Regions from separate parts of the Homo sapiens genome. Here regions 1, 2, 3 and 4 are each reported to be linked to region 5. Evidence: microRNA targets listed by miRTarBase, many of them from high-throughput screens and not tested one by one. Region 5 holds a microRNA gene; each other region holds the end of a gene's coding sequence. Distances are between the middles of the regions.
The links. The annotated mature microRNA hsa-miR-646 reads AAGCAGCUGCCUCUGAGGC and lies in region 5 at 2,569-2,587, opposite strand. An mRNA with a match to its seed (bases 2 to 7 or 8) in the 3' UTR can be bound and repressed. Matches are read on the target gene's strand: a 7mer-m8 pairs with bases 2 to 8, a 7mer-A1 pairs with bases 2 to 7 and ends in A, and an 8mer does both.

Region 1 (4,000 bases), not on the chromosome of region 5:
GACTGTCATCTAAAACCTCAAAGCCTCAAAAGCTGTTTACATCAGTGGGGTTGCACCTGTACTCTGAGTTAGTTTTATCACAAAAATGGGTCATTTGCAGCTGCCTTTTAAAGGTGAAAACAGATGCAAAATATATTAAAAAAATCAAACAGACTTTCAAAAACCACACACAGTGCCAAGTAGTCAGTGGATTTGTCGGCGCCCTGCCTGAGAACAGCACTTTGATAAAAGGCCCAGCTGCAAGGGTGCAGAATAACAGAGTTGGGAGCACTGCTGCCCTTTCTTTGTTCTGCCTTTCAGGGCAGCTGTCCTCAAATATGGGGTGGGCAGAAGTGGTGTGCTTACTGCCAGCACTGCCTGCTACAAGGAAAAGAACTGTATGGCCTACTAATTTGGGGGAGTGCTGGATTAAACAGCATTAAGATGCTTCTCAGACTGTTCAATATACTTGTGTGCACTGCCCGTCTCCCAGGGATGGACACAGTTGTGATCCCCAAATGCTCTACAGACTTTTAGGGGAGGGACCATGCTCTAGGACCCATGCTTTAAGAAGGCAAAAATAAACCAAGCACTGTGGCTCATGCCTGTAATCCCACGGCTTTGGGAAGTGGGAGGATCGCTTGAGCCTAGAGGTTTGAGGCTGCAGTGAGCTATGATTGAACCACTGCATGCCAGGCTGGGTGACAGAACAAGACCCTGTCTCTAAAAAAACAAAAAGGAAGCAAAATAGAAAATGCTTCTTTGCAAACATTATGTCAATTAGTGATACATCTAAAATACATCTTGAGAGGCTGGGGTAGGAGAATTGCTTGAGGCCAATGGTTTGAGACCAGCCTGGGAAACGCAGTGAGACCCCATCTCTAAAACACAAAATAAAATAAAAAATAAATAATTAAAATGCAGTTTAACTGTAGCAGCTACACCCTTCAGCAGCATCTGTGAGAGAAGTGTTATTTCTGACCAAGCAGAGCTGTGTTTTAAGATGAAGGCTCCCCGACCTGTGAAAAACAGCCCTAGCTCAAGGTTAACTTACAGTATCAACAGTACATTACTTCAGCGATGCTTCTGTCTTCCTACCCACTGGGGACAATTGTCTCCATAGCTTGTATCTTACATTCTCAAATAACATCTAGTTTCTGGTTCCCCTGAGACCAGGTGCATCCTCCACCCACCTCACCCCACTGAACCAAGGATCTGCTGTACACCCTTCCTCATTAGAAACTTCATCTCCACCCTCTTTCCCACTCCCCCAACAAAACAATCAAAGCACATGCCCAAATTTATTTTTATTTTGCACACATAGGAAACAGGATCCTATCAAAAGAGAACAAAAAAGAGAAACGAGCCAATTGTTGCAGAGGAAAAGCATGCACAGATCTGCTTCAAGTTTACTCTGAACCACGGACGCTCCGGGAATTCTACACACCAGGAGCTGTCTCACTCCAGGAAGTGGGCACAACCCACCATCCACACAATGGAAACAAGAATGGCCAGGAAATGTCACCGAAGTGGGACTTCCATATGCAGGATCAGCGTTCACAGTAGCACAATTCTAACCAAGTTCAAGGGAAAACAAACTCTGTCTCACACAAACATGGGAATACAAAATTGTTGAGCCCTAGCCATCACTGTCTCTTAACATAATTTGCTATCAAAAAGACAAACGAAATTTAGTCACGGACTTTTGGGTGCCTATTCAGCTGCACCCGATTCCAGGGGCAGCTTAGTGTGCTTTTTCATTACAAAAAATAAAGACATTAAAAATGCAAAACAAATGACCTGGAGGAAGAGGAGTGTTTGGACCCACGCAGTTGTCTTGGTTGTAAACAGTGAACATTGTGCTTTGTTGTCTCATTTAGATGGAGGCCTGCAGCATGGGAGGTACCACGCTGGCAGTCAGCAGTCACACCAGGGTGGTCAGAGACACTGGTGGCAGCATCTGTGCTTGCAACTGCATTCCCAGGGTGTCTGTTTTGTTCCCAAGTGTCTCCCACAAAATTCCCCAGGAGGTTCTCCGATTAAATGTCCTCAGAGTGAAAAGCATGGACACCAAATCACTCCGTATCCACTTCCATGAGATGTCTTGATGCTCCAGTTCAATGAGTAACAATTTCTCAAGAGGCTCTGATTAGTTCATTAAAAAATAAGCACCCCCACCTCATTCCCCGTGATACAGCACATCTAGTAATCTAGGCGCCTCAGCTAAGCTGCATAGCTCTTAGCACACAGGACAGGTCAGCGTTCACACATCAACACTATAACTATGCGGCGGAACTAGCTCCCCGCTAGCCGTCAACTACTCAGGAGACTACCTGTGAGATCCTGGGGTGAGCTGTGATTCCTATCCAGGAATGTGCATTTCCGACCACTTCTTCTTTATTCTAATTATGACAACATGGTCAGTGCAGTTGAGTCAGTACTTCTCCTGTCTTTTCCCAGCAAGCTCCTCCTCCTTGGAGCCCAGCACACACCCGCTTAGACCCAACACAACCTCAGAGAGAGACGCCTCAGCTGGTCTCTCTCCCTGGAAGAGTCCATGTGACTTCCCAGCCAGATGTGCCCCGTTTTGAAAGCACCCTTCAGAACCCACCACTGGAGCTGCCTGAGGGAAGGAGACCCCCGGGCCTGAGAATGCCCTGGAGAGGCAGTGATGTCCAGGGAAGACACACACCCAGTCTGATTTCAAAGGGCAGGACGCTCTACATGCACTTCCATAAACACACCAAAAAAATGGGTAACAGTCCTTTCTCCAAATCAGACCAAGAGCTCACAAAATGCAATGTCTCAGTTTGGGGCAGGAAGTGATTTCCCATGAATTTAAATAAATTTGCTTAGTGGATGTCAGATCACTGTCAGGCCTCCAAGGCAAGCCTGATTCTAGGCCCCATCCTGCGGTGAGAGCTGCACGTGCTACCCTTCCCTGGCGGTGCAGGAGAAGTCTATCTTTAGGATATGAACAGAGACAGAAACATGACAAGGGGCTTGCTCTCTCCTGAATGTCTCTCCAACAGCTTCTGGAAGAGGAAGGCTGACGAGAGGACAGGCTGGAGCAGATGACCTGCTGGGCTCAGCTCAGTCGGCTGCTGCTTCATCGGCTGAGCCGCCCGGCATGGGGCTTCCTATTAATACCCGGGCAGAAGGATGCTTGCCTGGGATGCTCGGCCTGGCCCCTCTACATGCCACCTGCACCTCCAGCACTGCCTTCTTCCTCTCAGTCTCTCTCCTGTAGATCTGGTCACGCCACCGTAAGGACGTCAGCCCTCGGGGACTGTCACCACACTACCATGTGAGAGCACAGACTGCGTCAGAAACAGAAGCAACAGAGGAGACAAAGTGTGAGTTCATATATTGTACTCCATGGAAAGCCTGAAAGAGAGCTGTGCTTGCTGTGAGGATATCAGAGGAACTGCCCTTAGCAGCCCACGAGACCGTTCCTGGAAGTGAACATCAACGAAGACAGAAAGGCCAGGGAAAGGCCCTCTCCTGTCTCTCCTCTTGCACGTGGGCACCCCACTACTTGGCCTTCACTACCTGTTCGTACGGGGGCGGAGGCGTGTTGCAGTAGGCTGGAGGGGGCGGGCAGGCCACACTCCCCTGGGGTGAGTTGGGTGGGACCTGGAAAGCCATTGCCATGGAATTCCCGACAGGGTTCATCCCCGGTCCTCCTGGGTCGGTGTAATAGGGCGGCCCCGGCTGCTGGGCTCCTGAAAGACAGACAAACATAGGTGAGCACAGAAGGGAAAGCCCCATCACACCGCAAGTATGTGCAGGCTGCAGGGCCAGCAGACCACGCCCCGTCATTCACTCAGCGACAGTGTATGAAGGACCCAACATGCCCGGTGAGGGGGCACCTGGGCTGTGGTGACAAGCAACACAATAGGCAGGTCCCTGCCCTCTCGGGGCTTTGATTCTACTGGACTACATTCCACGTTACCAGTTCACACATTAGGGTGGAGGAAACTGGGCCACAGTAAGGTGAGGCTGTCTGCGGTGAACTATC
Region 2 (4,128 bases), 44 Mb from region 5:
TCACATTCTTCATAAGGTCTTGGCTGGATATATTTTCAAGGAAAAACAAATGCTTGTTAAATACTCAAACAGAAGATACTATAAGGCTTAAAGTTTAAAATGGAGTTTTGAGTTTCTTGCAACTGAGGTAGGAGACCAGAAGAACTTGTTTTCTGGTCACCACCCTGCTGACCAGAACAGGATCTGGTCCAGGCAGTAAAAAGTGAAGAAACCAGCAGGGACAAGGAGATGTCAAGAAAAGCGATCCTCAGCTGTCTTCATTGTTTATTAGCATAAGCCACTCCCATAGTGCCATGACAGTTACAAATGCCATGGCAACAACCTGGAAATTACCACCCCTTTCCATGGCAATGACCCAGAAGTTACCACTCCTTTCCTAGAAAGTTCTAAATAATCTGCCCCTCAATTTGTATTGAGCCTCCCCTTAATTTGCATGTGACCGAAAGTGAGTTTAACTGGGTATAAATGCAGTTGCCAAGAGCCAATACTTTGCCAACTCTGGGCACACCGTGTATGAATTAGCCCTGCTCTGCAAGGGGCAACACTATTTACCAAAAGACTGCTGTTTACCACCATGAGCTCACCCTTGAATTCTTTCCTGGATGAAGCCAAGAATCCTCCTGGGCTAAGCCCCAAGTTTGAGGCTTGCCTGCCCTGCATCACAACCATTTCCAGAATTAACATTATCCTCTATTTATCAATATACTACTTTTGAAAAACACCATTTGAGTCAATGATCTATGATGCCCTACTTCATGAAAGTAGAAACCTGCTTTGTTAGTTCTTAATCTTGGGTGACAAGGGAATCACCCTGGGGGGGGAGGGGGGTTTATAAAAATATTGATGACTACGTTTCATCCCTGGAGACTAATTGATCTGGGGTGTAGATTGAGCATGGGTATTTGAAAATGGCTCCCAGATGATTCTAATATGCAGCCAAAGTTAAGAACCACTATATTAAATAACATCTACTCCCTTCAATCATTCCTCAAAACTCACACTCCCAAAAGATGGATGAGATAGGGAAGGTCAAAAGATCTTGGTTTGACCAAATCTTCTTTAAAGCATTGCTGTCTCCTTTTTCCTTTCCCCTGCTCCCTATTGAAGCCTTATAGAGTTTGATTGCACAGGAAAGATTTGGGAAAATTAGCAAATATAATATATTGAAGTTAATGGGACTGGTGGAGAAGTGATTTATACACAGGGGAAGGGGGAGAGCCAGGATGAACTCAGTGCTGTTAAGACTGCAGAGACATTCTTAGACATTCATAGTTTTTAACATAACTGTGTAGATATATCCAGAGGTAGACAGACTATCTCTATATAAAATTCACATCATGAAAGACAAGGAGAAGCTGAGGAATCAACAGGAGGCTAAAGAAACATGACAACTACATGCAACACAATCCTGGATTGGATTCTTGAGCCATTATTGGAATATAAACAAAACTTGGATTGGATGATAATATGGGATTATTTCCTGTTTTGTTTGAGACAGGGTCTCACTCTGTTGCCCGGACTGCAGCATAGTGGCATGATCACACATAATTGTAACCTCAACCTCCTGGGCTCAAGCAATCCTCCTGCCTCAGCCTCCCCAGTAGTTGGGACTTCAGGCACACACCACCACATCCAGCTTATTTTTTTTCTTTTTGTAGACACAAGGTCTCACTGTTGCCCCAGTTGGTCTTACATGACCCTCCCACCTCAGCCTCCCAAACCACTGGGATTACAGGCATGAGCCGTCGCACCCAGCCACATTCCCTGGTTTTGATGGTCATTATTGTGGTTATGTGGGAGGGTGGTCTTGTACTTAAGAACACACATTGAAGTATCATGGAATAATGGGGTATCAGGTCAATGTAATCACAACCTCAAATAGCCCAGAAGCCTAGAAACATTAATGATTAATTTGAAGTGTTATGAAAGTTCTGTGTACCATTTCTGCAACTTTTATGTAAATTAGAAATTGTATCAAACTATCACTCTTCTGCTTGAAATCTAATAGAACATATGCCCAGACTTGTATGTAAATTTTCATAGCCACTTTCTTAATAGCCTCAAATTGGAGAACGCAAATGCCCATTCATTGGTGGAACTGCTGATATAGGCAACAGCAGATACATTTCCAAAGCATTCCAGACAGGGCGAAACTGTTGGGACAGAAAGCAGATCAGTAGTTGACTACGGCCAAGGGTAGAGGGGAATAGATTGACTGCAAAGGCGTACAAGGGAAATTTTGGGGGTGATGGAATGCTCTGTACTGATTATTACATGACTATATACAATTGCCCAAACTCATCAAATGGAACACTAACATGGGTGAACTTTATTGTACGTAAATTCTAACCCACTTTAAAAAAATTCTCTAAAATAGTCCCCCATTTCACTCAGAGTATAAGCAAATCCTGAAGAAGACCTACACGACCCCTCTTACTATTCACCCCCCTCATTCTCACCCCAGGTGAGCCACCCTGGCTTTTCTGCTCCAATACAGCCACTCAAAGCATGGCCAGGACTGGGCATGGGATCAGTCTGTGAATTATTTTCAGTTCTTAGACAAGTACGGTATCCGAGAGTAAGCAGTTAGAAAATTTATCAGCAATTGACATCACTGTAATATACAAGAACATGGCCCATTTTCTAGTAATTCACTGTTAATATATTTTACAAAAGTACAGGAGCTTGACTACTGGGATTAAAAAAGTTATTCAGAAGAGTCAGACTAACTGTGACAAAGTTATAGGAAACATTTTTTTCCTCTTTATGTATGCATAAGAGTGATGTGATACTGTCTACGTAAGTCTAAAAGTCTTTCCATAAGTAGACAATAAAAATTCCAAGTGATAAAGGTTTTGTTCAAGGAATACTAAAACAGGAACACCAGAAAAATAAGTACTGTTTTCTTTTTTGTTGTTGTTACTATTAATATGTACCATACTTGTAAAAACAAATTGTCCACTTCTGGAGATACCCATGGTTTACTCAGCAGAGGACTGAATCAATAGCCTTAAACATAAATCAAAAGCTAAAGAAAATGGGCTTTGGAAATATTTGAACATTGGTGTTTAAGAATTACAAAGAAGTAGCAAGCTTAGCACTGGCAACTCTTTATTAATCAGTCTATTTGTCTTAAGGGGGAAAAGAGACTATAGATCAAAAAATTTTTACCCTGGAGGTCTTTCAATAAAGAGATTGCATATTAACCTTAGAACAGTCCTGCCTCATGAAGGAAACAGCATTAAATGCAAAGTGTGAAGATAGCATTCCCTTTCTGTTTTCTCAGTAAACAGTAAGAACAGCCTTTATTTAATACTGAATGAAGAAAACTTGTGGAATCCCTACTAGCAGCAAAATAATATATTCATTTCTTAAAAGGATACAAAGATCAAATTTAGATCCTGCCTGGGTCTCATTTTCTTCTAATACCCAGAACAATCATTGTTACCATTAATACAACAGTCATCTACTAGCTTCTGTGATCTAATTTTACTTAACTTTTATTGAATGGTTCAATGATGTTGTATAATTAGCTCCTCCAAAGTAACACTAGAAAAGCATCCTATTACACAAGTTTATAAACCTTAAGTGTGTTCTAGACTAGAAGTCATTTGATGATAGGGAGATGGGTCAATCAAGAAAGCATTATATACACAGAATACAAATAAAAGTTTATTGTACAAAATTAAGGCCTTCGTATTTCATAGTTCACCAAGGCTAAAGAAACACTGGATAATTTAAGTCCTTCACAAAAATTTCACTTTTACTCCTCCTCATCTCTAACTATTAAAATGACCCAGCCAAATGTTATCAAAACAAACACTGTAAATAACACCAAGTCTTTTAAAGACGACTATCCCAAATGTTATTTCTTGGCATAGGTGATCTTCATAGCATGGGACGGTGTGATCTTAAATCCCTGTAAAGCATCCCTGGCAGCTCCAGCCTGCCCATCATTTTCAAATTCAACAAAAGCAATGTCATGCCTCCCTGGTACCAGACGTACTTCCTTGAAGCCAGGGAACCTATAAAGAAGAAAAACAATTCATGTATACAGCAAGTACATAAATGTTTGCTTTGTGTTAAAATTTGTTAAGCAACTTCCTAATACTAGTCCAAGAAAAATAA
Region 3 (4,152 bases), not on the chromosome of region 5:
AGGCTGAGGCAGGAGAATCATTTGAACCTGGGAGGTGGAGGTTGCAGTGAGCTGAGATGACGCCAGTGCACTCCAGCCTGGGCAACAGAGCGAGACTGTCTTAAAAAAAAAGAAAGTGGAGTTGATCTATATATTTTTGACCATTTTTCAAATGTTACCAAGTGCCTTGTGAATTACAAAACTGACTTTTGTAATTTGGAAATAGAGAAAATAGGGGTTTTTGCAAAAAATGTTTCAGTTGCTAGCCTCCCTGTTTGTCCTTATAACTAGAAAATTGTTTGTCTATAAAAAAATTTTTGTCTATAAAAGTACCCTTCTGAAAAAAGCAGCCCAAATAAAATTCTGGGAAAAGAATTACTTAGTTGCACCGGACCTACTTCCTGACTTCCATTTTGTTTTGTTGTATTTTTGTCTTGTTTTAGGTTAGCTCCATTCAGAACCAAATGCAGTCCAAGGGAGGTTATGGAGGTGGAATGCCTGCCAATGTCCAGATGCAGCTCGTGGATACGAAGGCGGGATAGCCCTGGTCCTTTCTCCAGTGAGTACTCAGAGCTGGGGTCTGGACCTGACGGCCAGACATGGCCAGGCCAATAATAGTAAATATATGTATATATATATAATTTTTTAATGGTGAACTTATTGGGAAAGGCAAAATTACTCAGCTAAGTGTAGTTTCTGCACTTGGAATGTAAGTTTTAGGTTCTTTTCCTTATTAAGAACTTTAAATACTTTAAAACATCTGGTTGGGGAGGATTCTGATGACAAGATGCTTCTTATGTGTCCTTTAAACAAGAGTGAAATCATTATTTTGAGTATTGAGGCCGAGCATGGTGGCTCACACCTGTAATCCCAGCACTTTGGGAGGCCTAGGTGGGCTGATCACCTGAGGCCAGGAATTGGAGACTAGCCTGGCCAACATGGTGAAACCCCATCTCTACTAAAAATACAAAAATTAGCTGGGCATGGTGGCGCATGCCTGTAATCGCAGCTACTCAGGAGGCTGAGGCACGAGAATTGCTTGAACCTGGGAGGCAGGGGTTGCAGTCAGCTGAGAATGCGCCACTGCGCTCCAGCCTGGGTGACAGAGCAAGACCCTGTCTCAAAAAAGTACTGATACTAAAGATAATCTCTTGGGTAGTAATTTTACAGTTAAGACTTCATTGTTTATAAACTTTTCAAATTAATTAAAAAGACTACTTTGAAAAAGGATAAACCCTGAAAATGTAGAAATAATTTCAAGTTTTTTTTTGTTTTATAGGGTTATTGTGAATTTCTATATTTTCTCTGTCCACTATTCTGTAATTTTTTTTTGTCCTGTGATTGCTTTTATTTTGAATTACAAAAAAGAAGTGTGATGGCACCTTGTCCACCCTGTCGTGATTATTCCAGTGAGATGTTACTGTTCTGCTCTGAAGAAGATACTGTCAGACGAATCCTGCATTTCCTTCAGCTGGCATGCATGCCTTTGGACTCATGGACAGAGTTCTTTGGATTGTCACTGAATTTTCAATGTTTAATCAGTATGGATCTGATCTTCGCATGATCTTTTTTGTGAATGCTAACACCATTTTGCAGTTTTTTTTTTCTATTTTAAACATTTTTCTTTTCACTGCCGACCCCCTGCCTTACGATTTTATTGGAAAGCAAGGACCTGCTATTATTTGTTAATTTGCCATCATTTATGTATATTTTGGAAGGTATGAGACCCACAAGCACAATGATCATTTTTATTTGTTTGTTTGTTTGAAACTTCAGCAGAATAGATATCTGCATGCTTTATGAAGTTGTTGCTTCGGTAAGAGCCCATGGGATGCCAGAAATTAACATTTCTTTGCTGCCATGGGCTGATGATGCTGCTATTAGATAAAGTTTAGCTGTGGCACCAAGTCACATCATTTTCATAGAAAAAGATTACTTGTAGCTTATTTTAGAAGTATGACCTTTTGGTCTGTTTGATTGATTGATTAGAATTGCAATAAAAGAAAAGCTTGCATTCATAAGGCATTCATTCTGTTGTAAATGTTCAATATATTTATTTTGAGAGCAAGGACCTGTGGTTGTAAACAGGTGTGGTTACAGGTGTGGTTATGTATCTGAGTGTTGCGGTCATACTCTCCTCCAGTCCAATCCTGAGCATCTTCATCTTATTAATTAGCTGTTCGTTTCTTTGTGCACTCATTCTTTTATTTTTACTTCTTTTTAATGTTATGGTATCCAGTTGTTTCCAGTAGCAGTTTCTTGAACTTCTGGCCTGTACTACTAACTGCAGACCTCCAGAGTCACTGGCCTTTCTGTGCTCTACATATTATTTTAGGGGCCACATCAGTTGCCAAGAGCAACATACATACCGACCTGGCTGAATTATTGCCAGTGAAAACAACCTGTACGAAGCCTTTGCTCAGGTTCTAAAATATGTTTGTCCTTGCACGAATTTTGTATATTTCAAATATTTCTGTAAAGGTTTCTTCTTTTCTGTTAGAGTGTGGTGTTAAGCCAGAGTCAGTGGTTTGTGTTCTCATTAAAATGTTTGTTTAAATCCTATGTCCAATTCAAGCCTATCTAACTACATTTGGTAGGATTAACATTTCATATAACAAATGGGGCTTAATTAAAAACTTTAACTTGGAATAAAGGAACAGGGATCACTTTATCTTCTGCCTTCATTTACCTTAGTCCAAGATTCTTGCAAAACAGGCAACTGAACAAACATTAGGTTTATGTAGGTAAAATGTGAAAGCATTTCTCCTCCACTTTTTAAAATTTAATTTACCCAGTACAGCGGGGCACCAGATTACTTGATCTTTGTATTTTGCAGTTTTGAGCCTTTGTGTCAATCCCAAGCACAGAGAGGATCTGCCAAGGAAAAACATTTGCATCTTCGGAGTAGACATTTTGCAGTTTGTTTAATAACAACTTCTAAAGTAAGTTGAATTCATCCATTGTCACTGATTCACCAAGTGGATGTTGCATTGTGGAATTTGCCTGAGTACTGTTGTCATTCTGCTCAGCCAGGCACGGTCAGTTTCTTGGCCAGGGACATTGCTATGTGCTGTGTGCAAGCTCTTTAGAAGAGAGATTGGATTTTCTTGGCATTATCAGCACTCATGCTATTTAGTCTACTTCTATTTTGACTGACTCTTTAAATTAGTACAATTTTTCTACTTGTCATATAACTCCTGGAACAATAGTACGGGAAGCCGTGATCCTTTTCCCTGACTCATGATTTTAGTCTTTTTCCAAATCGCTGTTTTTTTTTTTTTTTTTTTTTTTTTTGCTGCTCCAACGACCAGCATGTGTTGGAGCAGATCTCCATGGTAAGCCAAAAGTGGACTTGTCAGCCTATAACTACTCTGCAGCTGCCACTAACTCTACAGGCACAGTAACTACACTTTATACAGGAGCACATGCCAAAGTGCCTGGGAGGTGCCAATAAAATCAAGAAATAAGAAAACTACAAAAAAAGATACGGTATTAACCTTGGACATAATTTTTTTTAGGGAGGCAGCTTTCCCACTTTTATAAAGGGGGTTGTAAATCTCAAGAGGTCATTTGTTCCCCATAGCAGCATATCTCATTTTTAAATTGAAGCGAATTAAATAGGATTTTACTACTCAACATTCATTATACTGTTAATCTTTGCTGAAATATATGCTAACAAATGTTAAGCAAGGGAAACTGAAGACTTAGTCATGTGGATTGTTAGCAGTGATCTGCATTCTGTAAAAGAGGTACTTTCCCATGATGTAGGCATGAAGTGGTGCCAGTAAGCGTAGAGCGGAAATGTTGACTTTAGTTAACATTGGGTTTAGCATTTCCAGTGCAGCATTATCAGTGGGCCTTTAAAAATACTTCGTAAGTACATTAGCTTTCACTTTGTTGTTAAATTATAGCAGACTCATTATAGAGAACAAGTTTGCCTTGATTTTGTTTAAAATGACTTCTGCTAAGCACCCAGAAGATAAAATTGACATATTTTTATAATATAAGCATACTTTTTTTGTACATTGTGTTCATTCTTGAATAAAATGAGTTCTGTGTTGGCTTGTAGATACTAAAAAGAAAGTATTGATTTTGATTCAATAAATGTTTTCTTTCAATCCTGGTTGGCCTTTCCTTTAAATTTTGTTTAGTTTTTCTTTTCTTTCAAGGAAG
Region 4 (4,152 bases), not on the chromosome of region 5:
AAAAATATGAACTTTTGGCCAGGCGCGGTGGCTCACACATGTAATCCCAGCACTTTGGGAGACCGAGGCGGGCAGATCACGAGGTCAGGAGATCGAGACCATCCTGGCTAACACGGTGAAACCCCGTCTCTACTAAAGATACAAAAAAAATTAGCCGGGCGTGGTGGCGGGCGCCTGTAGTCCCAGCTACTCAGGAGGCTGAGGCAGGAGAATGGCGTGAACCCGGGAGGCAGAGCTTGCAGTGAGGCGAGATCGCGCCACTGCACTCCAGCCTGGGCGACAGAGCAAGCCTCCGTCTCAAAAATATATATATTATATATTTAATATATAATGTATATTATATATATATATATATATGAACTTTTAGCTTCTTAGAAAAGCTTAAGATTTCAAGTTAAATAAAAGTTGGGGCCTAACTATATAGATGCCCAGAGAATTGTTTTTCTACCCTTAGGCACTAAACAACCAGGAGAATGAAAACTGGGAAACATTTTCAGCCCTGATAAGAACTAAAGCAGAACTCGTGAAAATTAGCTAGCATTAAAAAGACCAGAAGTGCCCAAGTTACCCAAAACAAGAAAGAAAAGACATGTTAAGTCCGTTTTAAAAGAGAAAATGAATCCATATTCAAGTTAAACAGGAAATCGGTCATTTTGGTTAATTTCCTCAGAACATTCAATTTTCTTGTGAGTCTCCAAATGTTTTGACTGCAAAAAGAATATTTTAAAGTTATTTTTAATGATGACCTTCATCATAATTGCATTTAGTTTGATTGTATACACATACTTCCAGGACCTTACCTCGCTGTCAAAATCCCATCCTTACCCTGTTTAAACAGCAACTCACACTAAGGAGTTGCTTGTGATATTCTTCTGCACAAGGGTAGGACAGGCTGACCCTTGCCACTGCAAATACACAACTAAAGATCTACCAAAAATAACTGATGAAAAAAGAAAACCAATTTGCTAGACTCTTAGAAAAGTACACAGGCTTTAAATGGATTCTTGAGGAGCTGACCCCAGAGACAACCCATCCTAAATGTAAGTGAAATGAAATCCCTTTTCCTTATTACCCTAATTTAAGGCCTGGAAATGGGGTGGCAATAGTTCAATACTTATCCACAGCAGTATATTTTTAACACTGTAGTAATGAACCCGATGAGGAAGTTAAATATCTATAACCTTAAAAGCCATAATTAAAGTAAGAAAAAGCAATCCACACTGTACTTACAACTACGCAAACATGTACTGAAATAATACTGATGGCTGAACATAAGGCTGTAGGTGATGTTTCTATCTTTTAAATTTTTTTATATCATGGTTATTATATTTTCGATAGGAAAACAAATGATAAAGGCTTTAAGAATGACCGTGTACTTTAAATTTTAAATTAAAATAAATTTTTATTCAAAGCATCTTTTAAAATTACAGCATGTTTATTCTTATGCTGTTAACTCTGCCAAACTACAACTTAGCCATATGAAGCATAAAACACTTCAAAAATTTGAATGTAAACCATTTTTTAAAACAAAAAGCAGTCTTAACACACCTCAAATTTTAGATACCAATGTATTTTTCCAAGTATATAGCTTATATCAAAAAGAACATTTTAAATGTTTCTAAATAGTTGTGATAATTTCTTAAACTGTTGCAATTATACAAATAAAAAATGTTTATGAAAAAACTATTAGAGTTGACAAAAGCTGACTGGAGAAACAAGGAAAAACCCTTACTTTTGAAGGCCTTAAATGTTATCATCTGTGAATTGGCAAATATTTGTATTTGAAAAATTCTTACTACCCTTCCTTCTTTAGTTAAGTTGATCAAAGTTCAAATTTCCCAAGACTGATGAGTGTTGTTTTTAGTTCATTAAATCACATATTTGAGAGCAAAAATTCTAGAGGAAATGCTGAAACATAAACCAAGATAATTCAGATGCTATAGTCTCTCTTACCAGCTTATAAGTGCTCCAAATTAAAATTCTATATACCACATTACAAAAAAATTCTTAGACCATTACAAATATAAATTCTCTTATTACAAAAAAATCCCTAAAGATTTGTAATTTACTGTACAGAGGAATTACATTTTTAAAGTATGTCCTCATCATACACATTATTCGTAACTATCGTATCTTCTTTCATACTTTTTCTCCTCTTCAAGACATTTACATGCCTCCCCTTCCCCGTGGCTACATATTTTAAACTATCTGTGTACTATGACACATTGGGATTTTTGGATAAAGAAGCCTACTTTGTAATGTTTAAACTACATCTGTAGGAACGTCTTCAACTCAAAAAAGCTAAAAAGGCACTGAAGAGCCCATATTTCCCTCTATTACTCTGAGTTTTACTCCAATTAAGCGATCTGTAAGTTACCATGCTATGCATGTCATTTAGTTCTGTTTAGAACAAAAGCCAAAATGATGGAAGTTTTGCCTACATAAAGGAGGTGGTCTGCTCAGCTCTTGATTTTTCTGTTCATGCTTCAGTACATAAAGTGGTGTTTAATAACTTTATTTGGAAAAATGGCTTCAAACCACCACACAAGTTAACACACTTGCAGTTAAAACTATTTCAGAAGCCTACTTATTTGAGTAGCTAATATTTTCTGCAGTGTTTAACTGATAGCTAAATTTAGTGAACACAAAATAGCTTGGCATGTTACTCTGAAGTAAAGCAAGAAGGTGGCTTTATGCACTGAAAATATAAATATGGAGGCTTCCATTTGCTAATAATTCTAAACAAGCAGTACAATTAAAATGTAGTGTTTGCTAACAAAAGATCTAAAACATTTCACTACAAAACAACCCTGCAGGTGTCCCTTTAGTAAAAATCCAAGTGCCAAATCTCATTACAGGGCCCTTAATATGTATTTTTAAAATTACCAATTACTATGTTACCTAGACTTTGCAAGATTAATCACTCAATTTCAGCAAATGAGAAATATGAAATGTGCAAAAGTTCCCAAGTTAACATGCTAGGGATGACAAGTGCTTTTCAAACTTAAACATTATACTGAGTTGTAAAGCCCCAGATAGAATAAGACTGATTTTGCTCCAATTTCAAAAATTCTGAACTATTGTGCATCTTACCAAGAGCCTCAAATATCTATTTTCTTCTAAGTCCATTACTTAGAACATCTTCCAAAATAGCCTCCCATTTCTCTAGCCTTAGTGGGCACAGTATTTTGCAATTAAAATTATCTATCTTACATATTTTATACTTTCTTGCTTGCTTCAGTGTTTACAGTATTGTTAAACATACTAATATATATTGTTAAAAATGATCTTATAAATAATCTGTTTTAATCTTCTTTGGCTATTTGTACCATTCTGTTTTTCAAACAAGTGTCTTATTCAGAAAGTGCTTCCTGTGAGAACTGCTTCCAATGAATGCATTAAACTTGCAAAATCTAGCTTCCCACAATATGTAGTTTTCTACCCTGTACTGTGCAGTCCATATTTACAAAATATTTTAAACTTTACGATGAATTCATTTCCATATTAAAAAAGTGCAGTTCTCTCTCACCCCATATTCTGGGGCAATAACATTCTTCATAAATTTCTACAGAATAGCAGCCTATGATAAGCAAATAAGGTGCTTAGCTTATGCCCAAGGATCTACTTTTTAAGTATGCTGGGCAGTACTTTTGTACAGTGGAAGAGTCAGTGTCCAAGCTACTGTCGGAGTGGCGCCCCAGTCAGGTTGGCAAGCTCTATGAGCGCGAGGGCTCCATGCAGGCGCTCCCGCTGCTCCTGCAGCCGGCGCTGGGCCCCTCTCTTCTCGTCGTCCTCTTCATCAGACTGAAGGTATTCCAGAGGGTCCTGCTGCTCCTGATCAGCCTTCTGAACCAGCTTGCCTTTCAAAGTGGGGGTGCGCTGCTCTCTCATTTCCCAATACCTATGTGAAATGCAGCAACATTAGTTACATGGCAGACATGAAATTTCCAAATGTTTACTTTTCTTTTAAAAAGTTCCATACCACAATATTACTTTTATGTGGTTCAGTTTATAAAGTTATAAAGTGATTTAACATAAATTTCCTATTTATAGAGGAAAGAAACTGAAGTTCAACGAGGTTAAGAGACGTGCTCAGGTTTCCACAATAAACCTGGCAGTTCTAGATCTTCTACTCACTCTCAAATCACGTTT
Region 5 (4,152 bases):
TAACTCACGCATAACTTATCCACAGGTCATAAAACTTGCGGGGGGAGGGGGTGTCGGCCTCCATCTTTGAATTTCATGCATAAAATTTGCATGCATAATAACCTCTGCCAGATGTTCACAGGTGACAGACTTACAACTCTCCTCTCTTTCTGCAGAGCCCACCAGGTCACATCCTCAGGTTACTGGTAAGAAAATCGTCCAACTGCCAGGGCAGACATTCTATTCTCCTCTATAATTTTCACTGCTGAGCAATTAAAAATGAGCCACAGGCCTGCCAGAGAGCTGCTCTGAGAGACTTCCCAGGTCTGAGTCCTCATCTTTCTAGCTGCCGTGCATCAATGGAGACAGATGGCCCCGGGGCCGGGAGGTTCCGTTTTGTGGAGAAAGGTCAGCATGTGCCGCTTTGATTCCCTGTCCCTGACACTTGAGAAAGGAAAATGTTTATGAAGGCAAAGCCATTCCCAGAAAAATCCAACAGATCTCTGCAGTGTAGGCTCCACTTATTCATGCTCTCCGTGTTCTCTTTTTTTTTTTTTTTTTTTTTTTTAAGATGGAATTTCACTGTTGCTGCCCAGGGTGGAGTGCAATGGCGCCATCTCGGCTCACTGCAACCTCTGACTCCCGGGTTGAAGAAATTCTCCCGCCTCAGCCTCCCAAGTAGCTGGAATTACAGGCATGCACCACCACACCTGGCTAATTTTGTATTTTTAGTAGAGACGGGCTTCTCCATGTTGGTCAGGCTGGTCTCAAACTCCTGACCTCAGGTGATCTGCCCACCTCGGCCTCCCAAAGTGCTGGGATTACAGGCGTGAGCCACTGCACCCGGCCATGTGGTCTTTCATGTTAGAGAACCAACCCAGAGATTGAAAAGAGCCATCACCATGTCCCTTGAGGTAAACTGCCTTGAGATCTCAGAATGGGGGAAACATTACAGAAGAAACCCTCTCTTGATCAAAGAGGGGTGAAAGCTGCATGTCGTAAGCATGAGTCTAATGCTGGGAGCTGAGGGCTTTGACACACGGTTGCCCCCTTCTGATTCATATGGAGCCCCCAGGACTCAGGTCAAGAAGCTGGGTACAGGTCCAGCACCCCCACTTCCTCAATCTGGAACCGTGTCCAATTTCTTCTTGCATCTCAACTTCCCCATCTTAAACTGGGAATAATACGTATTCCAGGATAGTTTGAAAAATTAAATGAGAAATGAAAAAGTATAAGCTGATGACCACTGTTGTCCTGTATCGTCTCAGCTGGCAGGCACAGCAATGTGTATTACCCTTTCACACATTTGACTCTTGAACACCGTGGGGGATTAGGGGACCAACTGCTCCACCGCCCCCTGCACAAGTGAAAATCCACAAGTAACTGTTGACTCCCCAAAAGTTTAACTACTAATAGCCTACTCTTGGCTGGAAGTCATACTAATAACCAACAGTTGATTAAAACATTTTGTATGTTATATGTATCCTGTGTTCTTGCAATAAAGCTAGAAAAGAGAAAATGTTAAGAAAATAAGAGAAAATGGATTTTCTCAATTCATATTCTCTATTCATTTTCTCTATTCATATAGATTTTCTCTATTCATATAGATTTTCTCTGTTCATATTCCACTATTCATTAAGTGGAAGTGGACTGTCATAGGGTCTTCATCCTCATGGTCTTTGCATTGAGTAGACTGAGGAGGAAGTGGAGGTGGTCTTGCTGTCTCTGGGGTGGCGGAGGTAGAAGACCACCAGCATGTAGGGGGACCCATGCAGATCAAGCCCCCTGTTGTTCAAGGCTCAACTGTAATTGCTTTTTGATCCATCTGATGAAAAAGGCTCAGTTTCAGAATAATGTATCTTTGACACCTCACTTTACTCATTTATCTTTTCAGTAAAGAGCACAGTCCTTGGACTCAGATCCTTTGATAATTAATATTTCATAAAGATGCATTCCCTTTTTATTGTATTAATTATTCCTTTATCTCCTATTAATACAAATGACACTGGCTTTCCATCTGTGTAACTGGTTCCTTTTGAAATAACTATTTCAGCTTAACAAGTCAACTAAGGTGACAAAAACTAGATCATAATAGAGACAATACTTAGACGTAGCAAAATTGCAGGGAAGAAATGCAGTGCCAGTGGATGTGGCCAAACCCTCAGAGAGGAAAGAGGCTGAGGCTGGACAAAGGCTGATGTTGGCGACACGTGTGGGGCAGCATCAGACGTGTGAGACTGCGTGTTTCTCGTGTGTGTGTGTGTGTGTGTAGAGAAAGAGGAGGAGAGGACCCACACCAGAACCAGATGCTGTATGGGGTGGAAGGGGTGGACAGGCCCCGCATCCAGGCAGCCTTCTCCCTTCCCCTCCACCTGCATCAGCTGAGCATGTGAAGTCCCCCTGGCAGGCCCCCGTGCAGGGACTCAGGATGCAAATTGGGCCCGAGGTGGAGGTGGAGGGGTAGGTAAGATCACCTCCTGCTTTGGCTGTTTTCTTCTTCCCGCTGGCAGCAGGGCAGGACCCTGGGCTGCTGTTCAGCTACATTCTGACCTGCATGCATTGGGGTAAAGATAGGCCACTGAGCCTGAGGCCTCAGAGGCAGCTGCTTCCTCTCCTGGGATCACAGGTGAAAAGCAGGTGTGCTGACTCCACTGGCAGACTCCTGATCTCCAGGCTTCTGAACTGTCCTGGCTGTGGTAGTCAGTGCTGTCCTGGCAGGTTTGCTACACAGTGCTCGAGAAAACCCGGAGCCAGCCAGAGCCCCTCCTCAGCACTTTCAACAATGACCTGTAAGCATCTGTTTCCCGGTCCTGAATCCCTTCCTGCTTGACCCAGCAGAGGGGCTCTGTGTCATGAGTGAACTCTGACAGTCGCCCTACCCCTCTACCTGGTGCGTGGAAGGCAGAAGGAAGGACAGAATTGTCATGACAATGTCATCTCCACCGGATCCTGGGTGATTTGCTCAGGGCTTAGGAGCGTGTGATGACTTACACCTGACCCATCCCTTTACCGCCTATAGGAGATCCCTATCCTGCGTCTTTTCACCTTCTTGGCAGTGTGCACCAGGCAAACCCTGGCCGATTAAAGCCCCCAGGAGTCCTGCCCTCACCTGCACACCTGTCCAACTAGAAAAGGCCAAGTGCACATCTCCCTCCATCCCTGAGGGTGGAAGTTGAAGATGCCATGACAAACATTGGGTCTTCTTTTTAAATGAATTTCCTAGCCTTTACCAATCCTCCCCGCCCCCCACAACAAATTTTAAAACCCCTTTTATTTATTTTGAGAAGAGAGTCTCACTCTGTCGCCCAGGCTGGAGTGCAATGGTGTGATCTCAGCTCACTGCAACCTCCGCCTCGCAGGTTCATGTGATTCTCCTGCTTTAGCCTCCTGAGTATCTGGGACTACAGGTGCCCGCCACCATGCCCGGCTAATTTTTGTATTTTTAGTAAAGACAGGGTTTTGCCATGCTGCCCAGGCTGATCTCCAACTCCTGGCCTCAAGTTATCTACCCTCCTCAGCCTCCCAAAGTGCTGGAATTACAGGCGTGAGCGATCACACCTGGCAAAACCTCTTTTATAAGCTAAAGTGTGAAATCATATTTCACAAAGAAAATACACAGGTAGGCATAGTTTCCATAAAGAAAGAGTGAGGGAGGAAGAGAGAAAGAACTATGACCAGATTGCAAAGGGCTAACAGAAACTTGATTTTTGAGACGGAGTCTCACTGTGTCGCCAGGCTGGAGTGCAGTGGTGCAGTCTCTGTTCACTGCAACCTCAGCTTTCTGGGTTCAAGCAATTCTCCTGCCTCAGCCTCTCAAGTAGCTGGGACTACAGGCGCTCACCACCATGCCAGCTAGTCTTTGTATTTTTAGTAGAGACGGGGTTTCACCATGTTGGCCAAGATGGTCTCAATCTCTTGACCTCGTGATCTGCCCACCTCGGCCTCCCAAAGTGCTGGGATTACAGGTGTGAGCCACCACGCTCGGCCGGGAACTTAATTTTTTTAGCACTATCAGAATAACCCTGGCTCCCTGCTCCCTCTGGTTTGCTTTGATTAACATTTCCAGGACAAGTCTATGGAAATAACCAACCCCAGGCCCTGCTTAGCCTATTTATTTTCTGTAGCAACTGTGGCATTGGCTCTACAGGGTCAGATTCGTAATTAGAACTCCTT

Region 1: the mRNA of VOPP1 is a reported target of hsa-miR-646. Seed matches in the 3' UTR shown: 7mer-A1 at 3,414-3,420.
Region 2: miRTarBase lists SNRPB2 as a target of hsa-miR-646. Seed matches in the 3' UTR shown: 7mer-A1 at 3,346-3,352.
Region 3: the mRNA of CDC42SE2 is a reported target of hsa-miR-646. Seed matches in the 3' UTR shown: 7mer-A1 at 1,853-1,859.
Region 4: miRTarBase lists ZNF367 as a target of hsa-miR-646. Seed matches in the 3' UTR shown: 7mer-A1 at 3,574-3,580.

Annotation. Positions count from the first base shown.
Region 1 is chr7:55,469,342-55,473,341 of GRCh38, forward strand. VOPP1 (VOPP1 WW domain binding protein) reads right to left here. Exons shown (of 5, transcript NM_030796.5): 5 at 1,272-3,704. The coding sequence ends at 3,514. Among named protein-coding and RNA genes, the nearest start is that of VOPP1, 100 kb to the right of the region's middle. RefSeq lists an enhancer at 3,632-4,000.
Region 2 is chr20:16,740,743-16,744,870 of GRCh38, reverse strand. SNRPB2 (small nuclear ribonucleoprotein polypeptide B2) reads right to left here. Exons shown (of 7, transcript NM_003092.5): 7 at 2,307-4,025. The coding sequence ends at 3,866. Among named protein-coding and RNA genes, the nearest start is that of OTOR, 5.6 kb to the left of the region's middle.
Region 3 is chr5:131,390,571-131,394,722 of GRCh38, forward strand. CDC42SE2 (CDC42 small effector 2) reads left to right here. Exons shown (of 5, transcript NM_001375635.1): 5 at 423-4,102. The coding sequence ends at 521. LOC105379173 (a long non-coding RNA gene) reads right to left here. Exons shown (of 3, transcript XR_007058929.1): 3 at 4,070-4,152. Among named protein-coding and RNA genes, the nearest start is that of CDC42SE2, 130 kb to the left of the region's middle.
Region 4 is chr9:96,384,559-96,388,710 of GRCh38, forward strand. ZNF367 (zinc finger protein 367) reads right to left here. Exons shown (of 5, transcript NM_153695.4): 5 at 1,383-3,901. The coding sequence ends at 3,679. Among named protein-coding and RNA genes, the nearest start is that of SLC35D2-HSD17B3, 2.9 kb to the left of the region's middle. RefSeq lists an enhancer at 4,105-4,152.
Region 5 is chr20:60,306,969-60,311,120 of GRCh38, reverse strand. It overlaps MIR646 (microRNA 646), which reads right to left and starts at 2,647; the gene lies at 2,554-2,647. The region is part of intron 3 of MIR646HG (MIR646 host gene); the gene reads right to left.